Linked DNA regions of Homo sapiens: all the other regions are linked to region 3. Evidence: fine-mapped expression QTL. A gene starts in region 3. Each other region holds a variant in brackets. All regions are shown on one strand. Distances are from middle to middle.

What was found. PIP is the estimated chance that this variant, and not a neighbour inherited with it, causes the effect. A credible set is the group of variants that fine-mapping cannot tell apart.
Region 1: its variant is the best candidate, but not a certain one, in a credible set for the expression of NXN in aorta (GTEx, PIP 0.65).
Region 2: its variant is the best candidate, but not a certain one, in a credible set for the expression of NXN in monocytes after R848 (Quach 2016, PIP 0.56).
Region 4: its variant is the best candidate, but not a certain one, in a credible set for the expression of NXN in tibial artery (GTEx, PIP 0.70).

Annotation. Positions count from the first base shown.
Region 1 is chr17:862,775-866,933 of GRCh38, forward strand. All of the region lies in intron 1 of NXN (nucleoredoxin), which reads right to left. Among named protein-coding and RNA genes, the nearest start is that of MRM3, 83 kb to the left of the region's middle. The variant G/A (reference allele first, on the strand shown) is at 2,221.
Region 2 is chr17:914,599-918,757 of GRCh38, forward strand. The region is part of intron 1 of NXN (nucleoredoxin); the gene reads right to left. Among named protein-coding and RNA genes, the nearest start is that of NXN, 63 kb to the right of the region's middle. RefSeq lists an enhancer at 3,931-4,159. The variant A/C (reference allele first, on the strand shown) is at 1,852.
Region 3 is chr17:977,680-981,838 of GRCh38, forward strand. NXN (nucleoredoxin) reads right to left here and starts at 2,097. Exons shown (of 8, transcript NM_022463.5): 1 at 1,640-2,097. The coding sequence starts at 1,999. RefSeq lists enhancers at 1,010-1,945, 3,370-3,664.
Region 4 is chr17:949,261-953,419 of GRCh38, forward strand. The region is part of intron 1 of NXN (nucleoredoxin); the gene reads right to left. Among named protein-coding and RNA genes, the nearest start is that of NXN, 28 kb to the right of the region's middle. RefSeq lists an enhancer at 508-1,400. The variant C/G (reference allele first, on the strand shown) is at 1,817.

The DNA.
Region 1 (4,159 bases), 110 kb before region 3:
CAACAGGAGCTCTGCGGCATTCCTGCCAGAAATGTTTGGCCTGGATGTAATCACGAGGGAACCATTTGACAAATTCAGACTCTGGAAAATTCTGCAAGACAACAGACCTATGCTCTAAACGTATCAATGCTACATTTCTTGGGTATGATAACGGTATTATTGCTAGGAAGAGAACACCCTTGTTTTTAGGAGATAATGAAGGTTTAGGAATGAAATATCATGATAAATATAATCTATTTTCAAATGCCCCACAGTATACTCAGGGGATTGGTTCTGGGACCCCCACATATTCCAAAATCCGCATATACTGAAGTCCCACAATCAGCCCAGCAGAGCCTGAGTGTAGGAAAAACCAGCCTCTGCATACATGGGTTTCACATCCTGCGAATACTGTTCTGTCTTCTTTGTTTTTTTGAGACAGAGTCTCACTCTGTCACCTGGGCTGGAGTGCAGTGGCGCGATCTCAGCTCACTGCAACCTCCACCTGGGTTCAAGTGATTCTCCTACCTCAGCCTCCTGAGTAGCTGGAACTACAGGTGCCCGCCACCACGCCCAGCTAATTTTTTGTATTTTTAGTAGAGACGGGGTTTCACCGTGTGAGCCAGGATGGTCTCGATCTCCTGACCTCATGATCAGCCCGCCTCAGCCTCCCGAAGTGCTGGGATTACAGGTGTGAGCCACCACGCTCAGCCGTGTTTTGTTTTGAGACAGGGTCTCGCTCTGTCCCCCAGGCTGGAGAGCAGTGGTACAATCACATCTCACTGCCGCCTCAACCTCCCTGGCTCAAGCGATCCTCCTGACTCAGCCTCCTGAGTAGCTGGGACCACAGGAGCATGCCTCCATGCCCAGATAATTTTTAATATTATTTGTAGAGATGGGGGTCTCTCTATGTTGCCCACGCTGGTCTTGAACTCCTGGGCTGATGCAATCCTCCTGCCTCAACCTCCCATAGTGGTGGGATTACAGGTGTGAGCCTCTGCACCTGGCTGACACTGTATTTTTGATTCACATCTGGTTGAAAAAAGTCCACATACAAATGGACCCTTGCAATTCAAATCCACGTCATTCAAGGATCAACTGTCCTTCAGGGAAAAAACATACCCACTGCTTACACAGAGCTCTGTAGAGGTTTATGTCAGGCTCATACAGTGTGTTCCCCAGATCAGCAGCAGCAATGCCTGGGAACTGAGTGAGGAAACACGTTAACCATTGCTCAGTTTCGGTGAAAGGACACAGTTACCGTTGCTGGGTTCCGGTGAAGGGACACGTCTGCCATTGCTCGGTTCCGGTGAAGGGGCACAGTTACCGTTGCTCGGTTCCGGTGAAGGGGCACGTTTACCGTTGCTCACTTCCGGTGAAGGGGCACGTTCACCGTTGCTCGGTTCCGGTGAAGGGACGCGTCTGCCGTTGCTCGGTTCCGGTGAAGGGCACAGGATGGGCATTCATGGTACTTGTCTTCAACTTTTCTGTAGGTCTGAAATTTCCCAAGATAAAAAGTTCGGAGTAGGGAGAGTAAGTCTTAATCCATTTCCTTCTCAGGGAATCAAAACCACGGTTCTTCAGAGTGTTGATTCTTAAATTTGCCAAAACGTAGGGGAGTGCTAGCTTAGATCCATCTGTGTTCCCTAGTTCCATGTCCCATGGGACAAGACACCAGCCTCAACGGTATTAGGTCAGGAGGGCGGATTGCATGGAAAGAAACAGAATCGAGGAACAAAGTGGGCTCTGCCCGTTCAAACGGCTGCCCTGGGAGTACAGGCTGTTTCTCCCTGATAAACATCGGTGAGACCAACATGAGTGTGAGGCTTTGCAGGAACTTGCCCTGCATTTCCTCCCTCTCCAGATAATTCTCTGGTCTAACATTTCAGAAGGCTTTTTACCAGACTCACCCTGAGATCCTTTCCAACCTGATTATAAGAGAAACCATCATGACCCCACTGCTCACTCTGAGGCTCCTCTAATTAACGGACCTCTAAGGAATGTGTTTGGCATTAAAGGGGCAGAGGTGGGTAAAGTTAAGGAAGCTGCTGCAAATCTCCTGAAAACGGAGGCAACCCAGGCGGTGTTCTGTCAGTCTGCTGCCCAAGGAAGGGCCAGATGCCCTGAACCCTTCTCTCTCATTCAACACGGATGAAAAGATAAAGAATCCAGAAACTAAAGGGCAGATTCTAGAATTTACCTCCTGCTTAAGCTGTCCTGGCAGTCAGGCTCCTGGATCTC[G/A]GAACTAGAACCACGCCTGGTTTATGTAAAATCAGGAGATGGGACTAAACAGATCATCTCGTCCACACTGATTGAACAGAGGAGAAAAGCACAACTCCCAGAAGTCATCTTTCTCGCTCGATATTGTCCATCTCCCCTCCCTGTGCTCCTTCAGTGGAAGCGCATTGGGTGATATCCTCTGTATTAGGTAGCAATGTTTTCTGGGCAAGGGAAACTATTGGTATTACAGGCTGGCTGACAAAAGCTGGAGTTACACTTTTTTTTTTGAGACAGAGTCTCCCTCTGTCACCCAGGCTGGAGTGCAATGGCACGATCTTGGCTCACCGCAACCTCTGCCTCCTGGATTCAAGTGATTCTCCTGCCTCAGCCTCCTGCATAGCTGGGATTACAGGCATGCACCACCACGCCCGGCTGATTTTGTATTTTTAGGAGAGACGGAGTTTCTCCATGTTGGTCAGGCTGGTCTCGAACTCATGACCTCAGGTGATCCGCCCACCTCGGCCTCCCACAGTGCTGGTATTACAGGCATGAGCCACCACGCCCGGCCGAGTTACACATTTTCTATAAAGCAATGACAGTCTCTCCCCTCCAAGAAGGACCTTGGCAATGTCTACAGAAGTCAATAATGTCCATTATTCTTTGGCTTAGCAATTCCAATTCACAGATATGCATGTGTGAAGTGTGCAGAGATAGATGTGCAACAATGTTGCTGGGCGCAGTGGCTCACGCCTGTAATCCCAGCACTTTGGGAGGCCGAGGTGGGCAGATCACTTGAGGTCAGGAGTTCGAGACCAGCCTGACCAACATGGAGAAACCCCATCTCTACTAAAAATACAAAATTAGCCGAGCGTGGTAGCACATGCCTGTAATCCCAGCTACTCAGGAGGCTGAGGCAGGAGAATCGCTTGAACCCGGGAGGTGGAGGTTGCAGTGAGCTAAGATCGCGGCATTGCACTCCAGCCTGGGCGACAGAGCAAGACTCTATCTCAAAAAAAAAGAAAAAAAAGTGTGTGCGACAATGTTTATCATAGTATTATTTGCTACAGCAAAAGGAGAAGGAAGGAGTGAAATATCCATTTATCAGGCAGTGGGCAAGTAAATTACGCTCTATATATTCAATAGAATACAATGCTGTTATTGCAACAATTAAAGCAGGTCGGCTATGCCGATAGGAAGAGACTGGCAAGATATTAGATTTTTTTTTTTAAATCAGACGTTTCTTTTGTAAATAGAACAGACAATACCCGTCACATACATGTATAAATGCACAGAAGATATTTCAGAAGGATGTATATAAGAAACTTAAGGCTGGGCGCAGTGGCTCACACCTGTAATACCAGCACTTTGAGAGGCCGAGGCAGGAGGATCACCTGCACTGAAGAGTTCAAGATCAGCCTGGGCAACATGGTGAAACGCTGTCTCTACAAAAAATACAAAAGTTGGTGGCGGGCGCCTGTAGTCTCAGGTACTCGGGAGGCTGAGGCAGGAGAACCCTTGTACCCAGGAGGCGGAGCATGCAGTGAGCTGAGATCGCGTCATTGCCCTCCAGCCTGGGCGACAGAGACCCCATCTCAATAAATAGATAAATGAACCTTAAGAGAGAGGATAGGTGAGGAGTTGTACCTCAGTAACACCCTTCAGTACCATGTACCTGTTTTAAGTACGTGCATGGAGTTCTGCTTTTATAAAGAAAGAAAAAGTCCTGGCAGCCTCTAACGTTGTTCAATTTCAGCCCAGACCCTATCAAGCAAGGACTTTTTAACTGAATCAGCAATTAAACTGCTAGATGTGGACTAATCTGGTTTGTGATCTGAAAATACATATTCTTAGTGAAACAAATGATTTGAGCATGGGTCAGGGCAAGGCCAACATTCAAATACTGCAAACCCTCAGCTGGTGCCAGCCTCAGGCTGCGGGTCAGAACATGTGAGTGGAAACA
Region 2 (4,159 bases), 63 kb before region 3:
CAACAAACATGTATGAAATGCTACCTTGTGCTGAGCATCGAACCAGGCGGAGACAAAGATGAGGAGCAGAGACTCGCTTCTGACCTTCAAAGAGTCCACAGTCCATTGAGTGAGGTCATTAACTCAGCAAGCGAGTTAACAGGGAGCGTACCGTGATGTGGGAAGCAAGACTGTTGGGTGTAGAGGAGGCGGAGCTGGATGTGGGGAACCAGGGCTTCCCCTGGAGGAGCTGATGAGTGCGTGGAACCAACAGCACAGGCAAATAAAGCAAGCAAGTGAGATGAGTTTTCCTAAAATATTAAAGGGGGTGAAATCGCAGACACTTGTACTGGAAAAATTTCAGAGTTGATTTTTTTTTTTAGACAAAGTCTCGCTCGCCAGGCTGGAGTGCAGTGGTGCGATCTCGGCTCACTCCAACTTCTGCCTCCCAGGTTCAAGAGATTCTCCTGCCTCAGCCTCCCAAATAGCTGGGAATACAGGCACCCGCCACAACGCCAAGCTCATTTTTTGTATTTTTAGTAGAAATGGGGTTTCACCATATTGGCCAGGCTGGCCTCGAACTTCTGACCTCGTGATAGGTCCACCTCAGCCTCCAAAAGTGCTGGGATTACAGGCGTGAGCCACTGCACCCGGCCAGTTGAGGATTTTATAGTTGAGAATAAGTGGGATTATGATTAGCATGACCTCTAGGAATTCTTTCTCTCTTTCTTTCTGAGATAGAGTCTCACTCTGTCGCCCAGGCTGGAGTCATCTCGGCTCACTGCAACCTCCACCTCCTGGGCTCAGACAATCCTCCTGCCTCCGCCTCCCAAGTAGCTGGGACTACGGGAGTGTGCCATCACACCCAGCTAATTTTTGTATTTTTTTGTAAAGACTGGGTTTTGCCATGTTGCCCAGACTGGTCTCAAACTCTTGGGCTCAGGCAATCAACCTGCCTCAGCCTCCCAAAGTGCTGGGATTACAGATATAAGACACCACACCTGGACTCTAGGAAATTATTTCTAAGAAAGGAGTAAAAGTGAGAATGAATGAGTACATAGTGTAACGCTTCCGAGCTTTGGTGCAGGAGGAAAGTAAATAACAAGGATACCCCAGGGCTGGAAACTTGGCAATAAACCAAGAAGGCAGAGACCAGTTAGTGCAACACTAAAATGCCTGACCACTTATGGGGCCAGAGCTGGGGCTTCCAGGTGAAACTTCCCCTAAAATGGGCGGCCACTTATGGTGTCAGAGCCGAAACTTCCCCTAAAATGGGCGGCCACTTATGGTGTCAGAGCTGGAACTTCCAGCTGCTCCCCCTCTCCCAGTTCTTTTGTCCTTGTCCCTAGAGTTTTGGTCTCCAAGCAATCGGTTCTGTGTTTTTGTTTGTAGGCTCAATTTTAAACCACATTTTGTAAAGGCACTTCTCAAAAGGCAAAGATAAAAACACTGAAGCTCTTAAGAGCGCCTGTCTGGCTGCCAAGCCATTGTTCTACTCAAATGTCGAATGAAAAGGGAGAAACAGAATGATGATTGTATTTGAATTGCTTCCAAGGAAAAGTAACCTCCAGCAAAACTCTAGGCCCACTTTGCTAGAAATCCTGGCACGTCGGCAACAGAAATGGAGGCAGAAAATTGCATCTTTCAGAAAGCAGAGTATCAAACAGGAAAAGCCACAAGGAGTGAGGTGCTGTGAGGTTCCCGTGGTGCAGGATCCATTTTATCCTTTCTACTTCTTCCTGCTGAAAATGAGATTATTTAAAACAATTTAAAAGACAATTTTCCCTGCAAGGGGCCTTTTGGAAATGAGTCAAAGTCAAATCCCTTGTTTTACGTAAAATTAACGTATGACATTTCAAAGTTACCAAACTA[A/C]AAAAAAGGAAAATAAATATAAACACATTCCAAAACTTAAAAATGAAGGAGATTTCAGACAGTCCCTCCTGGTAAAATGTGAAATTGCACCCCAGCTGCAGTAGCTACTGTAAATATCCAAGGAATCAGTTTTAAGTGTTTGGGGATCCCAGGGATCCCTGCAAAGCACTCAGGATTTTAACATTAAGCTCACAAATTACAGCAGCTGGCCGGGCACGGTGGCTCACGCCCGTAATCCCAGCACTTTTGGAGGCCGAGGCAGGTGGATCACCTGAGGTCTCCACTAAAAATACAAAAAACTAGCCAGGTGTGGTGGCGGACATCTGTAATCCCAGCCACTTCGGGGGCTGAGGCAGGAGAATCACTTGAACCCGGGAGGTGGAGGTTGCAGTGAGCTGAGGTTATGCCATTGCACTCCGGCCTGGGCAACAGAGAGAAACTTCATCTCTAAAAAAAAATTACAGCAACCAACAGGCCTCTAGGTTAGTTACCACCCTAACCTCTTCGTTGTAAATTTTCAAACCACCTTGAAGGTGGGTATTTTTGGTGGGTCTTTATCTTCATTCATTAATCACATTATCAGACATTCCCTGTGTGTCCTGTTCTGTTATACATGCTGAAGCTACAAATCAAACATCCGCTTTGCCTCCAACAAGATTCCCTGTTCCTAAGTGAACCAAGGAATGAGGTGTTCCACGCCTGAGCTCACATCTTTTTTTTTTTTTTCTGTAGCCCAGGCTGGAGTGCAATGGCGCGACCTCGGCTCGCCGTGGCCTCCGCCTCGCGGGTTCAAGCGATTCTCCTGCCTCAGCCTCCCGAGCAGCTGGGACTACAGGCGCCCGCCACCATGCCCAGCTAATTTTTTGTATTTTTAGTAGAGACGGGGTTTCACCATGTTGGCCAGGCTGGTCTCAATCTCTTGACCTCGTGATCCGCCTGCCTTGGCCTCTGAAAGTGCTGGGCCTCTGAAAGAACAGGCGGGAGCCGCCGCTCACATCTTTACTCATGAACCTAAACTCACAGAGCAGCCCCACACTGTCGTCTGTGGAAACCACACCAGCTCCTCCTCTTCCTTCTGGACCTGCTGTCCCACCCTACGCCCATTTTTTATCTCCACCCACTCTTTGAACTTAGCACTGGTGTCTACAGGCTCGATTCCCAGCTCTCCCACAAGGACGTGGCTCAGACGCACGTCACCATCTCAACCCAATGTAGGCCACCCGCTGCAGGCGAGCTTCCCTACCCAATCCGACCTCCTAGACGGACACCCCAGGTTCCAGCCCTACAAGGGGCGCGTACTGGCACAACAGGCGGGCGTGGCTCTCGCTCCCCAGGAAGGCCTCGCAGAGGTGGGGACAAGGGCGGATGGGAAAGGGGATAAGCGACAGGAGAGGGGGGACTCCCGTTCCAAACAAAGGGGACTGCGTACTGGTGAAGAAGAATGTGGTCTGTATTCAGTTTTGTTGACAAGAACCCCTAATGGATAATAATAAAATGTTTACTGAGCTCGTACTTTATGGAAGACACATGGCTCACGGCAGGGCCCGGCACATCACAAAAACTCACTCCGTATTTGCAGCATAAAGGAAATCTCAGTTTCAGTTTTAAAAGTTGTGTGTCTAAACCAGAAAATAACTCATAACATGATCCTACTAAGAAGATGGGCCAAAAACAGACAAAAGAAACACGAGAACACTCAATATCACCTCCCCCAAAACAACACAGCATTTTCCTCCTGTAATCAAACAATCACAAACCAGGCTGTGCTGGGCCTGGCCGTTGTGCCAGAAACAGCCCCAGAACCCTGGGCCCAAAGGGGTCTGGTCTTGATTAAGATTATTTTCCTTTGTAACGTTCGGTTTGGAGGAAAAGGCGGGAGGGTCGGAAGGAAATGGGAGGAGCGCACGATCCATCAGCGAGTTTCATCGCAGCGTTTCATCTCCTTCGTGAACTGGGCTCAGGGAGGCCGTGACTCCCATTTCCATTTGGCTCCCGAGTCAATCACTCACTTTCATTCCAGCTACTTTTTGTCTTAATTTCTTGACTTAAAAAGGGTTTGGTTGAGGCCGGGCGCAGTGGCTCATGCCTGTAATCCCAGAAAGTGAGGCCGAGGCGGGCGGATCACCTGAGGCCAACAGTTCAAGAGCAGTCTGGCCAACACGATGAAAACCTGTCTCTACTAAAAATACAAAAATTATCCAGGCGCGGTGGTGGGCGGCTGTAATCCCAGCTACTCAGGAGGCTGAGGCACGAGAATCGCTTGCACCCGGGAGGCAGAGGCTGCAGTGAGCTGAGATCGCGCCACCGC
Region 3 (4,159 bases):
TTAAGTAGACTTTAGTCTACAACAGAAACTTGCCGTAACAATGAAAATGTTTTTTGGCAAATCCCTTTCTGAACATTATTTCTCCACGAACGTATCACAAAAACCACCACCAAGGAAAACAAAGGATTCTCGTATTTTGAATCAAAAAGTACTGGCCATGCATATTCATACTATATCAAGCATGTCAATCAAAATGGGCAAAATAACCTAAAAAGCAGTAAAAATGCCAACTCTTGCCTCTGAGTGGTTAGTGAACCTATGTTTTCCCAATATGAAATTTACAAACTGCATCGGATCAACTGTATTTCATACTTTAAATCTCGAATCTCTACCTCCCACTGCTTCGGGATGGATGATTTACTCAAGACATTTGGGGTCACAGTGTAAGCCTTTTGCTCCCAGTAAATCTAAATCATGCTTCTCAACAAGATTCTGCACATATAAAAGGAACACGTGGCACGCCTCGCCATGCTCCCCAGAGGAAACTAAACGCCCCCAGAATAGCCCTTCTGTCCACTCCAGAAACAGGCTTTCCTCAAAAAGGGAAAGGGGCTGGATTCACACGTTGCATCATATACACTCACGAAGCAACAGCGCTCCAAAACTTTTTCTGACTCCATTCATTACAAAATGTCCTGGATGTGCTTTATTATCACAGAGACAGACATCCTCACCCAAGGGACACACTCAGAAACCCAAACTCAACTCGGCAGCAAACTGGGAGACACGAGAAGTTGACAGCAAAGTATCCATTTCCCCAAATCCTCCTTCTTCCAGTCAATGTGCATCGATGGGGTCAGCTCAGCCCTTAACTCGAAGACCCCGGGACCACAGGGGCCACCACGCAGCTGAGCTCTGCACAGCCCGGGCTGTTCCCGCGCCCGGGAGGCGTCTGGGGAGGAGGCTGGACGGCCAGACAATGCAAAGCTCCCCGGTGGCCGCGAACTCAGCCTGGGGCGGGGGAGGCGGGGGCGGGAGACGGAGCCGTGAGCGCCCTTCTCGGCCACAGCCACGGCCACGGTCACCGGCCGCCTCTCCTGACCTCGGCCTCGGCCCCCAGGTCCCCGGTCCCCGGGGAAGGGGCTCCGGGAAGGCAGGTTTCTCCCGGAAAGAAAGGAAACGCGCTGGTTTGGGCGCCACGGGCGGGGGGCGTGCGCCCTCCCCTCCCCTCCCCTCCCCACTGTGGGAATCCGCGGGGGTCGGCGGCGGAGGCAGGAAGGGCCTGGCGCCTCTGCTCGCGGGTGAAGGGGTCGCGGAACCGGGATCCCCGAGCGCAGCCGCCCCCACCCGAGGCTCCCAGCGTGTGCGGACGGAGGGGCTCGAGCCGGGATCCCGGGGGCCGAGGGGGGTCCAACTTTCCAGGGCGGGCGCAGCGCAGCACTCGAACCAAAGAGGGGTCCTGGGATGAGGGTGCGGGCACAGCGCGGAAGGGGGGGGGGCAGAGGCGGGGACGGCGGGGTGGGGGGCGGGGAGAGGACAGTGGGTCGGGGGGCGGGGGACTGGGGGCAGGGGTCGGGGGGTGGAGGGCGGGCAGGGGGACAACGGGGTTGGCGGAGGGCAGGGGTAACGGGCGTGGGGGGCGGGCAGGGGTAACGGGCGTGGGGGGCGGGCAGGGGCCGGCGAGGCCCGCGCCGCTCACCTTCCTGTGCTTCTCCTTGTAGGGCAGCGCCAGCCACGGCATGTCCCGCACGAAGTCCTGCCACTGCCGCTGGTCCTGGTCCGAGGACACGAAGACGATCTCCAGGCGCCGCCGCGGCTCGGGCTCCGCCGCCGCCCCGGCCCCCGCTCCCGGCCCCGGCCCGGCCGCCGCGTCCCCCCGCAGGCGCCCGTAGAAGGCGGCCAGGCTGGCGCTGAGCTGCGCGCAGGGGGCGCTGAGGCTGCAGCCGAAGTAGAGACCCAGCAGCGAGATGCCGCGGGCGCCCAGCGAGTGCACGTCCACCTCCTCGCCGCCGCCCGTCACCAGCTTCTCGCCGAGCAGCTCCTCCAGGAAGCCCGACATCCTGGCCCACCGCAGGGCGGGCAGGCGGCTGCGACCCCGCTCCACGGTCCGCGCGGCGGGAGGAGGCGGCGGCGTCGGCGGCAGGCGCTGGGGAGAGCAGAGCCCGGCCCAGTAGGGCCGCCCACGCCACGCCCCCTCCGCCTGCCCGCGCCACGCCCCTTCCCCCGCCCTGCCACGCCCCCTCCGCGGCCCGCGCCACGCCCCTTCGGCTGCCCTCGCCACGCCCCTCCGCCCGCCCTCGCCACGCCCCCTCCGCCCTCGCCACGCCCCGTTTGCGGCCGGCGGTGGCCAGAGCTCTCCGCCCAGGCGGGGTCCGCAGCTGCCGGCCGCGGTGCGCGGGGTGACTGCTTGGGCGAGAAGCCGGACCCGAAACGCCGCACTCTCCCTGGAAAGCCCACGGCCGAAGTGAAGAAAGGAGAAGGGCCCGCTGAGCCGGCGCTTTCCCGGGCTGCAGCCCGGCCCGCATTTTCTCTCCTCCCCAGTTCTAAATTCCCTCCAGACCTCCAGGGATCCCGCCCCCTCCCCGCGGAGCTCTTCACCCTCTTCCTGTTCCTCCCCGGCCTTTCCCTCCTCCTCTCCCTGCACGAAGCCTGACCCTTAGGCCGCTCCGGGCCCCACTGACCCTGAGATGCTTATAGGACCCGCCGTCCTCACTGCATCAGGCCGGGCCTGGCTGGACACTGACTCCTCTGTGTGTTCCAAGCTGTTCTAAGGGGGCCGAGGACGCCCTCGCAGCTTCTGGTGGGGTCTGGTTAGGGTGCCAGGTCTCAGTGTGGGATTTCCGTCCAGGGGTCGCCGGGGCCTCTCCCCCCAGCGAATCTGTCTTCCAGCCCCACAAATGGATGCAAAGGACGCCGCGGGGCCTCCAGACCAATGCTGGCCGCGCTCCTGAATCCGCTCCATCCTCATGTCAAGTCTATGGATAGTTGAGAACATTTCTAGAGATTTTTTTTTTCCTACCAGCTGGCAGGATGCTCCCCAATGCTTAGGGAGAAGCTGGATTAAACAGGTGGTCTGGGCCGGGCGCGGTGGCTCACGCCTGAATTCCCAGCACTTTGGGAGGCCGAGGTGGGTGGATCACAAGGTCAGGAGTTCGAGACCAGCCTGGCCAATATGGTGACACCCCCCCCCCGCCTCTACTAAAAATACAAAAATTAGCGGGGTGTAGTGGCAGGCACCTGTAATCCGAGCAACTCAGGAGGCTGAGGTAGGAGAATGGCGTGAAGCCGGGAGACGGAGGCTGCAGTGAGCCGAGATCGCTCCATTGCACTCCAGCCTGGGCAACAGAGCAAGACTCCGTCTCAAAAAAAACAAAAAAACAGGTGGTCCGTGGCGAGTACTCTGGCCACGCAGCGCCTCCCCCCAACCCAACCCACTGGTGCACGAAGCAGGTGCAGATCCGGGCCCAGCCACAGTAACAGGCCGCCGGTGTGGATCAGCTACTGACGACTCAGCGAAAGCAAAAAAATAAAAGCTGAAAACCCGCCCCTCTCAGAGCTTCCACCGCCGCTTCGGAGGATATTTCCTGTGCATCCATCGCCACCTAATGGAAAGAGTGAAAAATGAGGCCGACCAAACTCCATTTGTGAAAAGACACTGCCGGGACACCAGGCACAATGCTTTTATTTTACAGCAGCTTTCCACATACACAAATGATAGGACGCTTTGCGGGAGCTAATTTAAACCTCAGAATAGAACTTCAAGCTTTTGGCACAAAACGTAAGTGTTCACATCGAAGGTTCTCCGTTTTTCTAGGGTAGAATAAGGAATGGTGCAGGGTTCCAGCTTGGTGAAATGTTACCATATAAAACAATTGGGAGAGGTGGAGATGGGAGCGGAAAGTGGACTGGCGTCTCTACAAGTTATATCCACTTCCTTAGTCACCTGCTGGTATTGCTAATGACACAGGTAAGATCTTAGATGGAGGACCGCCTTCGAACACCCTAGAATCCTACTGCAAAGTCGAATTCCACCTTAATTCTCAGGAGACTTTCATGCTGAAAGTCTGTGCCACTGTAGGGACAATATTATAAAACACACACAGAAAGCATCACTTTTTAGTGAAAACTTTATTTATTTATTTATTTATTTATTTATTTATTTTGAGACAGTGTGGGCGGCAGGCCACCCAGGCGCTGAGGCAAGAGACCGAGGACACAA
Region 4 (4,159 bases), 28 kb before region 3:
GGCCTCCTCCTCTCCCCCCTGCCTCCTCCTCTCCCCGCTGCCTCCTCCTCTCCCCGCGGCCTCCTCCTCTCCCCGCGGCCTCCTCCTCTCCCCCCTGCCTCCTCCTCTCCCCGCTGCCTCCTCCTCTCCCCGCGGCCTCCTCCTCTCCCCGTGGCCTCCTCCTCTCCCCCCTGCCTCCTCCTCTCCCCGCTGCCTCCTCCTCTCCCCGCGGCCTCCTCCTCTCCCCGCTGCCTCCTCCTCTCCCCCCTGCCTCCTCCTCTCCCCGCGGCCTCCTCCTCTCCCCCCTGCCTCCTCCTCTCCCCGCTGCCTCCTCCTCTCCCCGCGGCCTCCTCCTCTCCCCCCTGCCTCCTCCTCTCCCCGCGGCCTCCTCCTCTCCCCCCTGCCTCCTCCTCTCCCCGTTGCCTCCTCCTCTCCCCGTGGCCTCCTCCTCTCCCCCCTGCCTCCTCCTCTCCCTGCTGCCTCCTCCTCTCCCCGCGGGCCTCCTCTGTTAGGACCCACCTCCCTGCCTCAGTCTGGAAAGGGGCAGCCACGTGAGGACCTCTGAGACCCTGGAGAGCCACTGGGCTCAGCCTGGAGCAGTGGGGGCTGGGGTGGGAAGACGCCATGCATTGTTCAGCCCCAGCATCTGCCTGGGCACCTTCTGGTAACAGTCATTTGGCCAGCAGCTTCTCGGGGGCTAACGGTCAATGCCAGAAGCAATTAGCCCCAGGTCCTGGTCCTCCTTGGAGCCAAAACAATTAGTAGGCTGAAGACAGCCTGATGCTTAAGAAATCACTTTTTTAAAAAGGAAAAAAAGATTGCTTAAAAGAAGCCCCTTAACTCTGAAGGCAGTTCCATCCACCTTACAAATTCGGTGCCCTGTGAATACACATCCATGGGTCACAGCAGGGAATCTTTTTAACTAGAAAAAGAGCAGGAGAAGGAATTCAGATCAACATCACGGACTGCAGCAGTAAAGCTGGTGCCTGTTCGCCCCTTTCCCCTCCAGGCAGGAAAGAATCAAGGAAGAATTTCAGAATCTTTTTATACAAGAAAGGGATTCGGTGGGGGAAGGGAGTGGGTACAGAGATGAAGAACTTTAGGGTTTGCTATTTCAAGCTTAAAATAAATCCCAACGAGAAAGGATCCGAAGGCTTGGTTTTATTTTTAAGATCTTATCCAAGGCAGGGAACTATATCTGGTTTTCAGGGGTGTGTGGGGTGCAAACGGCCGGGCCAGCACAGTCATTTCATCCCCTGTCGATTCCCCAAAAGCAAAACCAAAGCTCAGCATGTGCTTCTAGAACTTTCTATATCTGGTGTTCAGGGGTGGGTGGGGTGCAAACGGCCAGGCCAGCACAGTCATTTCATCCCCCGTCCGTTCCCCAAAAGCAAAGCCAGAGCTCGGCATGTGCTTCTAGAATTTTACAATCTTGAATTACGGCTTCAAAATAACTCACATTCCACTATAAGGAGGCTCAGAGGATGCCACCGAGTGGACGGACGTGAGCAGGACCACAGAGACAACCCAGTGGGACACGCAACACTGTTCCCAAGATGTTAGCAGGGGAAAGAGTCGGACGAAATGGCGAAGTGTTTGGCACAAAGAAGACCAACAAATGACACACCAAGCCAGTAAAGACACCTCCGTAAGAAAGACACATTCCTCCCCAAATCTACTTTAGGAGCTACTGCTGTCAACTCTTGACTTTCTGGAAGTCTAACTAGTACAAGGTCCAATCCTCAATCGCTTATGAAACAAAATCAGAAAAAACCGGGTAGAACCCTAGTACTCCGCATTATAAAAAGCACTTCCGGCCGGGCACGGTGGCTCACGC[C/G]TGTAATCCCAGCACTTTGGGAGGCCGAGGCTGGCAGATCTTTTGAGGTTAGAAGTTCGAAACCAGCCTGGCCAACATGGTGAAACCCTGTCTCTACTTAAAAAAAAAAAAAAAAAAAAAAAAAAAAGCTGGGCGTGGTAGCGGGCGCCTGTAAGCCCAGCTACTTGGGAGGCTGAGGCACGAGAATTGCTTGAACCCGGGAGACAGAGGTTGCAGTGAGTTGAGATCACACCACTGCACTCCAACCTGAGTGACAGAGTGAGACTCCATCTCGAAAAAAAAAAAAAAGACTGAACAGCTTCTCTTTAGAACTTTCTAACACACCCCCAGGTGGAGGCCAGTGTTGCAACGATCGCACGAGGGACCAGAGGGTAATTCTGCAGCCTGATCTCTCTGTTGAGATGCTCACGCTCTCTTTTTGCAGACATGATGTGGTTAAAGCCAGGGTCTTTCTCAATCAATACATTTTAAAAATGCGAGCTGGGGGCGGGGGCGGGGGTTGGGGGCGGGAGGGTCTGTCAGCTGTGTGGAGACAAACCTCCTGATCCAGGCGCTCTCTGGCAGAGGCGGGCAAGCCCCACTTCCATGTATGGAAGTGAATGAAAGCAGTAAAACCTCAGGCATGAGTCTGGGCAGGGCTGGGGGTGGGGGCCGGCATTCCTCCCAGCAGGGCCAGCCCCAGAGGGGCGGGCAGCAGGAACCTTCACCTGGGGTCCCGTGGGTATTTCCCTGGGAGAGCCACAGGGGCAGAGAGGACGGGAGGCAGGAAAGCAATGAGCTCGGCACACTCAGTAGACGGAGGGCACCCGGGAAGGGGAGCTCAGCCTCCCCGAGAATGCACCAGAGCCTGAGTCCTGGAAACCAGGGCCACGCAGCTCCCGCCTGCCCTGACCTCAGTCCCCTGGAATGCAGAATTCTCCACGGTCAGCCATCCATCACCACCGCTCCCTCATGGCCAGCGCTGAAAGAAGGGGCGTTTCCGTTTTTGTGGGGGGCGGTGGTGGTTGTGGTTTTTGTGGTCTGAGAAACTCATGACAGTTACCCACCTCCTGCCAGGACAAGGCCACAGGAGGTTGCAGAAAATTCAGGTCACACTGTGGGGGGGCTGGGGTCAGAGAGACCAAGGTTGGAACCCGGCAGGTACCACGGACGGTCACACTGTGGGGGGGCTGGGGTCAGACAGACCAAGGTTGGAACCCGGCAGGTACCACGGACGGTCACACTGTGGGGGGGCTGGGGTCAGACAGACCAAGGTTGGAACCCGGCAGGTACCACGGACGGTCACACTGTGGGGGGGCTGGGGTCAGACAGACCAAGGTTGGAACCCGGCAGGTACCACGGACGGTCACACTGTGGGGGGGCTGGGGTCAGACAGACCAAGGTTGGAACCCGGCAGGTACCACGGACGGTCACACTGTGGGGGGGCTGGGGTCAGACAGACCAAGGTTGGAACCCGGCAGGTACCACGGACGGTCACACTGTGGGGGGGCTGGAGTCAGAGAGACCAAGGTTGGAACCCGGCAGGTACCACGGACGGTCACACTGTGGGGGGGCTGGGGTCAGACAGACCAAGGTTGGAACCCGGCAGGTACCACGGACGGTCACACTGTGGGGGGGCTGGAGTCAGACAGACCAAGGTTGGAACCCGGCAGGTACCACGGACGGTCACACTGTGGGGGGGGCTGGAGTCAGACAGACCAAGGTTGGAACCCGGCAGGTACCACGGACGGTCACACTGTGGGGGGGCTGGAGTCAGACAGACCAAGGTTGGAACCCGGCAGGTACCACGGACGACAGGTTCCTGCTGCCCATCCCTCTGGGAGGAATGACGGCCAGCAGAGCCAGGACCCACTTCTCCGTCCTGGAAGACGCAATGAGATAATACATGAAAAGCAGTAACAAGGTGGTCCTAGAGGGGTCCTAGGCTACCCCGTGTTAAAGATGAGAGCCATGAAGACCACTTCAAGGTGGTCCCTGGAATCCAGTGAGGGGCTCAGTCCACAGAAGCCATGACTGATGATCATTATCATGGAACCCTCCAGCTCAGGGAATGTCTGAGTAGCTCCCTGAAGTCCAAACGGAAGACTATGACCCTTGGGAGGCCGAGGCGGGCGGATCACCTGAGGTCAGGAGTTTGAGACCAGCCTGGCCAACATGGTGAAACCCCATCTCTACCAAAAATAGAAAAATTAGCCAGGCATGGTGGCTCACGCCTGTAATCCCAGCTACTTGGGAGGCTGAGGCAGGAGAATCGCTTGAACCCAGGAGGCGGAGGTTGCAGTGAGCTGAGATCGCGCCACTGCACTCCAGCCTGGGAGACAGAGCGAGACTCCGTCTCAAAAA